Regions from separate parts of the Homo sapiens genome. Here region 2 is linked to region 1. The links come from fine-mapping of genetic effects on gene expression. A gene starts in region 1. The other region holds a variant in brackets. All regions are shown on one strand. Distances are between the middles of the regions. Region 1 holds the start of TRAT1 (T cell receptor associated transmembrane adaptor 1). Region 2 has its middle 36 kb from the start of TRAT1.

What was found. PIP is the estimated chance that this variant, and not a neighbour inherited with it, causes the effect. A credible set is the group of variants that fine-mapping cannot tell apart.
Region 2: its variant is the best candidate, but not a certain one, in a credible set for the expression of TRAT1 in whole blood (INTERVAL, PIP 0.75).

What each region holds. Positions count from the first base shown.
Region 1 is chr3:108,819,832-108,825,223 of GRCh38, forward strand. TRAT1 (T cell receptor associated transmembrane adaptor 1) reads left to right here and starts at 2,955. Exons shown (of 6, transcript NM_016388.4): 1 at 2,955-3,103. The coding sequence starts at 3,097.
Region 2 is chr3:108,855,606-108,860,997 of GRCh38, forward strand. No RefSeq gene overlaps it. Among named protein-coding and RNA genes, the nearest start is that of TRAT1, 36 kb to the left of the region's middle. The variant G/A (reference allele first, on the strand shown) is at 2,151.

The DNA.
Region 1 (5,392 bases):
CATATATACACACACACGCAGATATAAGAAAATACATTATAGTGATGAAAATTAATTATAAAAATGATAGATGATCATCAAAAAAGAAGTTTGAAAAACTGGGCCTCTTTCTACACTCTGACCCATTTTTCTGAAACTCTGAATGGCAGCTGCCATTTTGACATGTTTTTCATTTTCTTTTGGCAACAAAACATCAATTTTGTTGGCCTTAATATTTTTATTTCTTGGCAGGTGCCCATCAAAACCTCCCCCCAAAATTTCCTACAACATCTCTAACTGCTTTAAGCTTGTCGAGACATTTCTGCTTAGTCTAGCTTTCTTTGAAATTCCATTTTGATAACCCATCTCATTAAAAAGTACTACAGAGGCCTCATGTTTATTTATGATTTAAACATGGCTCATGAAGCCATCATTCAAATCTCTGAATGCACTTTCTAATATATTTTATAACAAATAAATATCCATATGCTTTTTTATATTCTGATAATGTTTCCATGTGCTCAGCCATCTATATTTAATGAAAAGCTATTTTTTTTTTCCTGGCAAATTTCAAACATCTATGGAGCTAACTAATGTGCAGGCACGGACTTCCTGTGTGACCTTGGACAATCTTGTTACATCTCCGTAGATTATTTAAATCTATGGAATGGAACATTGTAATGAAGATCACTTTTCAAAAATATTGTAATAATTAGAAACTGTGAAGTGGTTCAGATTTATTAGCCTAAGTTTTTACCATTTAGAGATGTCAATCATGCATAGGAGGTACATTAACCCTTTTAAGCCATAAGGTAATCACTCAACAGGTACTTCAGGCTCTTTCTGAAGCAGGACATATCCTTCCTAATGTCTCTTCTGCTCTTGCCTTCCCCAGCTTCCTGCAGCTGTATGGGTAAAGTCATACCCTTGAGGCAGGGAAGCCCTTAGACAGCTGCTCTCCCAACAGGTGGGTTTGCTTTGGGTCTCTCTTCCTGTTGGGCTGCTCTGAGAGATACTTCTGAGCAAACCACAGAGTTCCTGCATTTTTGCCTGAGTCATTCTTGCTGAGTTGACCTTCTCTCCATTCACAGCCAATAATAATTAAACACCGTTTTTTCTGGAATTGCACTTTATGGATCAGCTGGGATGAAAGCATCTTCCTTCCTTCTTTCCCCATCCTCTGCGATAATTTTGTTCTAACAAAGGAATGCTAGCACCAAAATTTCCAGTCCTGAAACCCTTTCTCTTTCCAATGTCCTCTGTAAGCTCGAGTTGTGGGCATCTACTTTGCCCATATTCCAAGGTCTTGCTTAGGTAACCTCTGTAGTCCTTTCTTGAGCCTAGGACTTCTACTTTTCTTACCAGTTACCCTCTTTCAGGACCAAAGCTCAACTCCTCAAGGCCATAACTAGGCCCTCTCCTCTCAAACTGATTTATCAGGTGCCCGAATCTTCCTGAATGTCTGGGATTCAACTTTTCAGCAGTCTTCCTCCCTACGTTCCATCTAATTCTAAGATGAAACCTTCTGATTCTTTGTTGTCCTCTGATCCCTACATGAACCTGAGGCTGCTGTTCCCTGAAGTCTTGTTCTGTCAGCATCCAGGCCTGCTTCATAAAACCTGTCACTCTGCTAATGGTTAGCGGCTGAACAAAGAGTCCTCTGGCCAAATAAGTTTAGAAAAACTCTGATAAAAATATTATTTGGGTTTCCTTTTCGCAGGACTTACCTAAGCCTTTAATATGCATCTACGGAGGTAAAAATAAAGCTATATATTTTTTCCAAAGATATTTGTTGAAGAAACATTTGTCTTCTGCGTTTCTTAAAGGCCGAGTGTTCTATGGAACATACTTTAAAAATCCCTTTTAAAGAAGCTTAGACCAGAGAATCTCCAAGGTCTCTTTCAGTTTTACAGCCTCTGAGTCAACGATTCACCAAAAAATATTTTGGGGGGGAGTGATTGAAGTGGAAAAATGTGTTAGTGTTTAGCCAGCTTTGTCCAAAGGATAAGATGCACTGTATTTTGCTTACTAGGGAGTTATTTTCTATAATGGAAGACAAAGAAAGCACAAGACACCCATGGTTTTGTTTGTTCAATCACTGAGAGTAAGTCTCAATTATTGAGACTTACGATGTGCCGGTGTGCTTAATTCTAGTTATGAAATTTTAATAATGAATAATATAGATTCTATTCCTTATATGAGTTTCCAAAAGCATTGTCCAGAACATCTATATTAAAATATCTTATCATATACAATATATGTAATTTAAAATGCACTCAGAAAATCTGCTTGTTAAAATGCAGATTCTAGTGCTTCACCCTAAATAGTCTAATTTAGACGGGCCCAGGATTTTAAACTAGCATCTTATAGCATACTTATGTACACCAACATGTAAGAACTGCTGCTATTAAGATTCTGGGATGGTGGTTGAGAACAGGAGCTTGTTGTCAGGTGGCTCTAGATTGGACAGAGAAACTCATACTGATAAGGTGAGGATTGTCAGGAAATAAGGCAGGCATCTAGCCTCGCATTAAGATGAGGTATAGAAGGCAACTGATACATACTAAGTGCTCAAAAAATATTAACTCCCTGTCCTCCATCATGGCTCAAGAAAATACAACAGCTGAGCACACCCACGGGTTGCTTACTATTTACTCATCAGTTTAGTGTATCTTATTTTGTTTCCATGTGAATTTACTTGTGAAGAGATGACTGGATTCTCTCCAGAGATAGGAAGATCCCTCCTGGTTTAATTCCTACCTTTATTTATTTATTTTTCAATTAGACTCAGGTATTGATAAAAATTCAAATGTCAGATTACAAAGGTGTGTGGGATTTTTCTTCCCACGTTACACAATTTAAGTCGACTGTTTTCAGATCAAAACTCAAGACAACTCCTTCACCACATTTCCTGTTTGTAACTGAAACAAAGTACACACAAAAGATTTTAAGAAACAGAAGAGAAAAGAATCCGAGGCACAGATAAAGATAAGTTTTACTGTCATGCTGCTTTTAACATAACAGAGCAACATCACCTAGGAAAAAAGTTTGTAGGAGGATTTTTAATCCATATATTTGTCTTATGGCTAGATAAAGATTTCTCTGAAAAAAAGAAGCATGTCAGGTAAGTGGCATTTTAAACTTTTTGTTCCATTTGTGTGTCTAAAAATTCACTTAATTTCTAAGTCCTAACGAGAAGACCCTTAGTATTTAGAAAGTAGTTATTTTAAAAATGTTGGATAACTTTTAGTGTAATTAAAATATATTTTGAAACATGTTAATGAGTATAAGTTGACATTTTTCTTTTGAAAGAAAAATGTGGACAGCATTTTAGAACGTAAATCTAATTACAGCTGTTCAGTAAGTGTTCACTGATAATTATGCCATGTGAAGTACTTGTTATTTTTAAAGAAGCTTTTGTTGACTATGTGTATTCCTCTTTAGTTTAGTTTAGCTATTAAACAGGATAAGTGTAATTCTAATTCCTCAGAGATTAGGCACTATAGTATTTTCTAGAAAGCAATGCAATTGTCAACATTCAGAGAGACAACAATTTTGAAAAGGCCAGTGAAAATTCAATTGCTGTGAGATTAATCATGAGGGTTAGATCCATATTCACTCGCTGTTGTGAAAGGGTTGGATCCATATTGACTCACTGTTATGAATCCATGTTGATGGTTCATTCCTCCTGTATTATTTTATGTACTTTTAATTTATTAAATAAACATCTTTTTGTTGCAAAAGGAAACATGCATATTATGTAATGTGGGAGAACTGTGAAATATATATATTAAAAATTCATACGTATTTTCCATCACCTTAAAAACACAAAATATGTTTTATTTCCTTTCAAATTTTATTTATATACATTCTATATAGTTTGCTTTTCATAACTGAAATAATAATGTACATAATATATCCAGCTTTTTTCACTAACATAACCATGTCCCTTTTAATATAACTTCTGCATAATCATTTTAAATGAATGCACAAAAATGATATCTATTCAGTTATAGTTTAGTCATTTGTTTATTGCTGAACATTTATGTTGTATACAGTTTTTTTTGTTTGTTTTTTTTTGAGACAGAGTCTCTCTTTGTTGCCAGGCAGGAGTGCAGTGGCGCAATCTTGGCTCACTGCAACCTCTGCCTCCCAGGTTCAAGCGATTCTCCTGCCTCAACCTCCTGAGTATCTGGGACTACAGGCGCGTGCCACCACGCCTGGCTAATTTTTGTATTTCTAATAGAGACAGGGTTTCATTATGTTGGCCAGGATGGTCTCGATCTCTTGACCTCATGATCCGCCCGCCTTGGCCTCCCAAAGTGCTGAGATTACAGGCGTGAGCCACTGCGCCCAGCCCTGTTGTATACAGTTTTTAAAAATATTTTTACATGACAGAAAGATGAACAACTCTATAGCTTTTTCTGTAGTAAGGGTTATTTTTTCAGAAAACTTTCTAGAACTGAAATTATTAAGAGATTATGGCATTTTAAGTCTCATTATTGCCAAATTGCTTTTCCAAGAGTGATGCCAATTCCCTCTCATTCTAGCAGTGCTTCTCCTTCACAGGCTGATCTCCTTTAAAAAATCGTCACTAATCTCATAAGCACAACATGCTAACTCATTGTTCAATATGCATTACTTTGATTATAATGAGGTTGAACATTTTTGCATGGATTTTTAAACTGTTTATAGCTATCATTTGTGATAGTCTGATGACCTCTTTTGCTTAATTAGTATGCTTTGTACTTTTAATACCAATTTGTATAGGCCAGCTATGGAGTAAAGATTGCATATATTATAATTTCTGTGAATTGGCTTCCATTGTTCTGTTTGATGGATCTTAAAACCAATTGATTACATAAATCACACAGGGACCATAAGCTGGCATACAATTTTCATACCTCTCCTTATCTTTCCCAGTTCATACTTTAGCAAAGAACAAAAACAAGTGTCCCAATTTTTCTAGTGCCCTGCAAGAAATGAACATAGCATTACTAAGTATAATTCCATGAGCTGATGATGATGGGGAACTCAGAAAGCATGGGAAGACCAAAGACGGTGAATATGACATTCCTCTATTTTCAGGACTAATTAATTCTAAATTTAGAACAGATATGGTAACATTTCCTCCATCGCATTTTGTAGTTCAGACTTCCCCTTTGGGTTTAATACAGGAGCTCCTACATCAACAGTTGAGAACTTTTACAATTTCACAGAAGAGATGCAAAGACAAAGTATTTAAAAACCTCACAGGTATTAAAAGTCAAAACAAAACAAAATTTCACATGAAGGAAGAGAATCAGATGATAGTATTTTTTATATTTAGATAGGTAAAATAAAAAATAAAATAAATTTGAACACACACAAAAGAATAATTATTTCTAGTTAAGTAAAACTACGTATGAAAACA
Region 2 (5,392 bases), 36 kb after region 1:
ATGTTTTTGAGCTATGTAGCTGAAAACTAACTTGATAGTTTGTTTTCAGTGACATAGCTAACTGAAAACTATCAAGTTACTTGAACACAATTTGATCATTTAGAATCTTGCTTTTAAATTTTGTTAGATTAAGCCAGAGCAGCTTTTAGACTAAGTTAAATTTAGTTTATTACTGAGGAAAGATCCTCGTTAGTACTTAGTACCACCGTTCATGAATTAGGACGTTTTCCACTTTGGCTGTTGATAATCGACACTATTCCCAGCCATGTGTGAGTCATGGGCACTGTTTTCTTTATTATTTTCAGGTGGGTTTTTCCCCAAGTTCGGGTAGTTTTGTCACTTGCGTGCACTGACCAGTACTTAACTGAATACTTGACGGCGACTCTTCACATATCTCCAGAGTTTTCTCTACACGCAGCTCTCTTCTCTCCAGTATTCTGCCTTTTTGACTTCTCTTGACCTGGAGCTCCATCTCCTCAATTCAAGAGATCAATGGTCTTTTACCTAGGTTTCCTCTACCTGCTCCAAGGCCTGAAACTTTTCTCCAGGCAATAAGATAGGATGATAGGAAGGTTTACCTCATTTGTTTCCCATCTTTCAGGGACCGACCTTTGTCCTTCATTGCCTGAAACAGTATGTCAAGTAACACTGTTTCATCTACTTTGTCTGGAGTTTAGTTGTTTCAGCTGGCAGAGTATGTTCAGGTAGTAGGGTAAATCTAGGATGTTATTCTATCTTTGTCAGAAGCAGAAATCCAAGGCATTCTTACCACTTTACTGTAATTCTATAGTATATTTTTAGTGTAATTTAGTATAATTCGATAAGCTAAGCAGGATCATTTGAAATGTGAGTAAGCTATGAATTACTGATCATCATGTAATTATTAGGGACTATATATACATCACCTTTGGCAGTTTTCAGGGCTTATGTTCCAGAAGGAATACAGGATGAATATCCTGTATTTGGAAACAGAAGTGTTTCTGATTTTTAGATTTTGGAATATTTATTCATATGTAGTGAAGTATCTTAGGGATGCGACTTAAGCCTAGACAGAAAATTCATTTATGTTTATATACACATAGCTTGAGGGCTATTTATGTAATATTTGTAAATAATTTTGTGCATTCATCACATAATGTCAGGTGTGGAATTTTCCACTTGTGGAGTCATGGCACTCAAAAAGTTTTCCACTTTGGACCATTTTGGATTTTGGATTTTCAGATTATGGATCCTCAGCCTGTATCATTATAAGCCTTAACATTTCAACTGGAAAAAAAATATGTACGGAGGAAAAGAAAAAGAAAAATCATGACTAGAAAACAGATGAATTCCAAGTCTTGAGATTTTCACTGACAATGTTTTAAAGGTCCGATAAGTTGAACTCAAATCTCAAAAATAGGAGGGATAACTCATTTCCTTTTGGTATTAAATGGCTTATTTCTAGCAGAGTAAAGGGAGGGTGATTAGTTTAGACATATGCTTTAAATCTTCCTCTGAGGTTTTGTCATTTGATTAACAGAACAGACAATTTATATTAACACAGAAAAACAGAGCATTGACAGAAAGGAACAAGACAGAATATAAATTCAACAGAGGTACACTTCTAAATGCTATTTGCCATTCTTTAACCTCTTCTGAAGGGCTCTTCTGCACCCACTCACAGCTTCTACTACCTAGGAAGTCATGCATCAAGGGTGGGTACCTGAATCACGACAGTGGATTCTCCTTTTTTTCAGTTTCAATAAAACTTTTTTTACAAAATCAAGCAGGCCAGATGTAGCCTAGGGGCCATAGTTGGCTGACGCCTGGCAAGATCATTTGTTTCATTAGGAGCTTGCAAAATGATATGCTAGTCCTGTTATTCCTTCTTCATGTATTAGTTGGAATACATTATAGGAAGAAGACAGTAGATTCATCTTTGAACCAACCTAGATACAAGAGACTGGATAGTGATCAGAACAACAACAACAAAAAAAAACAATAGATAGAATTGGGGCTTTGAAAAGCAGGGTACAATTACAAGGGGAAGAAACTTAGAGTAAGATGGCAGAGACTGGAGTTCAAAGCTCCATAACTAATCAGACTAATCATATAACAATCATGACAATGATAAGTCATATTTATTGAGAACTTGCTAAGTGTAAGACACT[G/A]TGATAAGTGCTTACCTGCATACTTAATTTAATCACATAACACCCTAAAAGATAGATGCTAACCTTAAAGATGAAGAAACCAAGACTGATAAAAAGTAACTTGCCTGATGTCACACAAATAAACTGTAGACTCAGGATTTGAATATAAGTAGTCTAAGTGTAGAACTTGCTCTGTAGAATAGCTGATTTCTAGAGTTGGGTTTAAGTGCTCTTGGGCCCTATTTCTTAATTATCCCTGCATCCTATCTATTTAATAATAGTAATCTCTTTATTTTAAGTGCTGTGCTTGCATTTCTGTTATTTAAAATCAAAAGAGGCTAACTAAAACAAATTGAAAACAATTCTTAAAAATAATGACGATTTATGGCAGCTTGTACACACTAACAGCCCTTCTAATTTAGGAAAAATCCAACAATAAATCCCCTTAAATGACAGGCTGTTGCTTTCAATAAACACTAAGACTTACATCTACCACAATATTTTCATATTAAAGTGTTTTTACAGGAAAGTATTTTATTAATGCCACTTGCTTTAAAATGACTTAGCTTTTCTTTTTCAGTTTTGTGTATAAAAAAAGAGGTTTTCCCTGCAGTGACCTCATATTCACTCTCCATAAGAGACAGAACCCAAAACTAACTTACAAAAACAAAAATAAATAAATCCCGATATTGAAGCTAAAACATAATTTTGTGCCCCCTTTTGTCTAATTTTTTCTGTAGGGGATGAAAGTTATCTCATTTGGAATCAGGGAAACATTTGTTATTTAGACCAAAATGGAAGAGAATGGAAAAAGAATCTCAATCAATAGCGTTCTTGGCCACCTCTGATGTAATGGACAAGTCTTTAAAGATGTCAGTAACCATCATAACACTTGAGAATTAAGTAGGTTTATTTCTTCCATCTGCATTGATTAAGAACATACTTGGTAAATTAACTGGAAAAATTGGGTCAAGTGAGGAATAAATTTTTAAAGTACCATAAACATTTAAATTTAAAACGTATAAACATTTAGTCATTAACTTTTGATATAGGGCCAAGGCCTTACTTTGAGTAGGTCTATGATTGAAGTTTCATGTCATTTTTCTTGTATAAATATCATTGTCCATAAAACACTGTCTATGGTCCCAGTTTTGGTTTTGTTTTTAAGTGAAATGAGAACTTGAAAACATTTCTAATGAAATCTAACTGCAGCATCCCTCAAGATTTTTGGTTTTTCTTCCGAGACTTTAAGAGTTATTTCACCCTTACCTAAATTGTCAGTAATTTTTTTTTAGCAATTCGGTTTATTGATTCTTTGGAATCAGTGAACTTAACTATCATAGGAAAAGTTCCCTCCACACCCATATTTCATTAGGACACATAACAATTATCTTATGTAATTACAAGTACAGCCAAAATAATCAAGTGCAGGAACAAACACCATGCACTCCTGGGAAACACAGTTTTGGTGGTGGGAGAGACTCAGGAGGTTATAAGAATAGTCTACTGGCCATGGTGTTTATTGTGCTGGGTCAGGATTCAGTATGTTGATAGAAGGAAGGGAAAATGGCTCACATAGGTAGAGGTCAGTTAACAATGCCTCTATTTTACAAACCCAAGTTAACTTTACAGGATGAATTATTAGAACAATGGAAGAGTCTCCCACATCCTTTGCTGTTCTATTTTGTCTTTTTTTTTTTAACCACACAAGCAGTAGTGGTACCCAAAAATTCTACCATTTGAAAAATTAATTTTTAAATTAAATACTCTACTTTTTAGTCTTTCTACAAAGTATTGAGAAAGAAAAAAAACTTAAGAAAACTGGGGCAAATCAGTTTTTCTCCAATTTCCATTCTCCCATTTTTCCTAAGTACAGAATCTTTACTTTTAACTGGTGATCAAGACAGCATTAACTTCTCAAGTTAACTAAACTTCAGACAGATTTCTTCCTGTCCGTTTTCCTATTTACTTAAAAAACAAACTCATCATTGCAAATTCTTTTTTGGCTCCCTTTCAAGTGTGTATGTCTCCTCAAAAAGCTTTTACCTATTTGATTACCCCCAGAAATGTCTCTCTCAAAAACCTGAAAACCATCTCTTTGAAATGTAATTTCTGAAGGAAGATAATGCCTTTATCCTCCAGTCTGTGGGAGGGCAAAAGCCTACCTTCCGTCATGGAGATAGGTCAGAATTAAGCACAGGTGGCCTACCGTTACCCCCACCCCAGCTCTTAAAAACTCTCCAGCCTTTTGTTTCACCCTGAACTCAGAGGCTGAGTTGAGTTCAACCTCTCTCCTGTATTGCAATAGTCTTGAATAAAGTCTCTCTTGCTTGTTTAACTTTGGCTCATTTTTCACTTTAATACCAGATGCACGGCTGCTGGAACAATGTTCCCTCTGTAGCTTGTGTTGCCTTTCTTTGGCTCCTCATTACCTGTAGCTGGAATAAAGATGTGGTGGCTGAAGTCTGAATAGCAACATTTGATCACAGGATAGACTGCATGGGCTGAAGATGACAGAGAAATAGGATAAAAAGAGCTAAATTCCTAACACATGGAACAGCATCCCAGCCTTAGACCACCTATCTCCAGCCTTCTTTAATGTGAGAGATAAATTTCTGTTTTACTTAAGCCATTGTTGTTTTGAGATTTCTGTTATTCACAGGTGGACCTAATCTAACTAATATACCCCAAAATATCTTGATTTCATTTTTCACCTAACTTCTTTTAAAGAGGTAGTAAGGAGTACTAAAATGATGTCATTTGGGGTGAAGTGGGGTTGGCAGAATGAAATTCACTGGTATTACGTTGGTGCAAAAGTAACTGTGGTCTTTGCCATTAAAAGTAATGGACAGGCCAGGCGCGGTGGCTCACACCTATAATCCCAGCACTTTGGGGGACCGAGGCAGGCGGATCACGAGGTCAGGAGTTCGAGACCAGCCTGACCAACATGGTGAAACCCCGTCTCTACTAAAAATACAAAAATTAGCCAGACATGGTGGCACACGCCTGTAATCGCAGCTACTCAGGAGGCTGAGGCAGGAGAATCACTTGAACCTGGGAGGCAGAGGTTGTAGTGAGTTAAGACTGCGCCACTGCACTCCAACCTGGGTAACAGAGCAAGACTCCATCTCAAAAAAAAAAAAAAGAAAGTAATAGAAAGACCACAATTACTTTTGCACCAACCTAATACTTTTCCATGTACCGAATCTGCTCCAAACCACTCAGAACATTTGTAGAGATGAAAGAAAAGCCAGTTTCCTGTA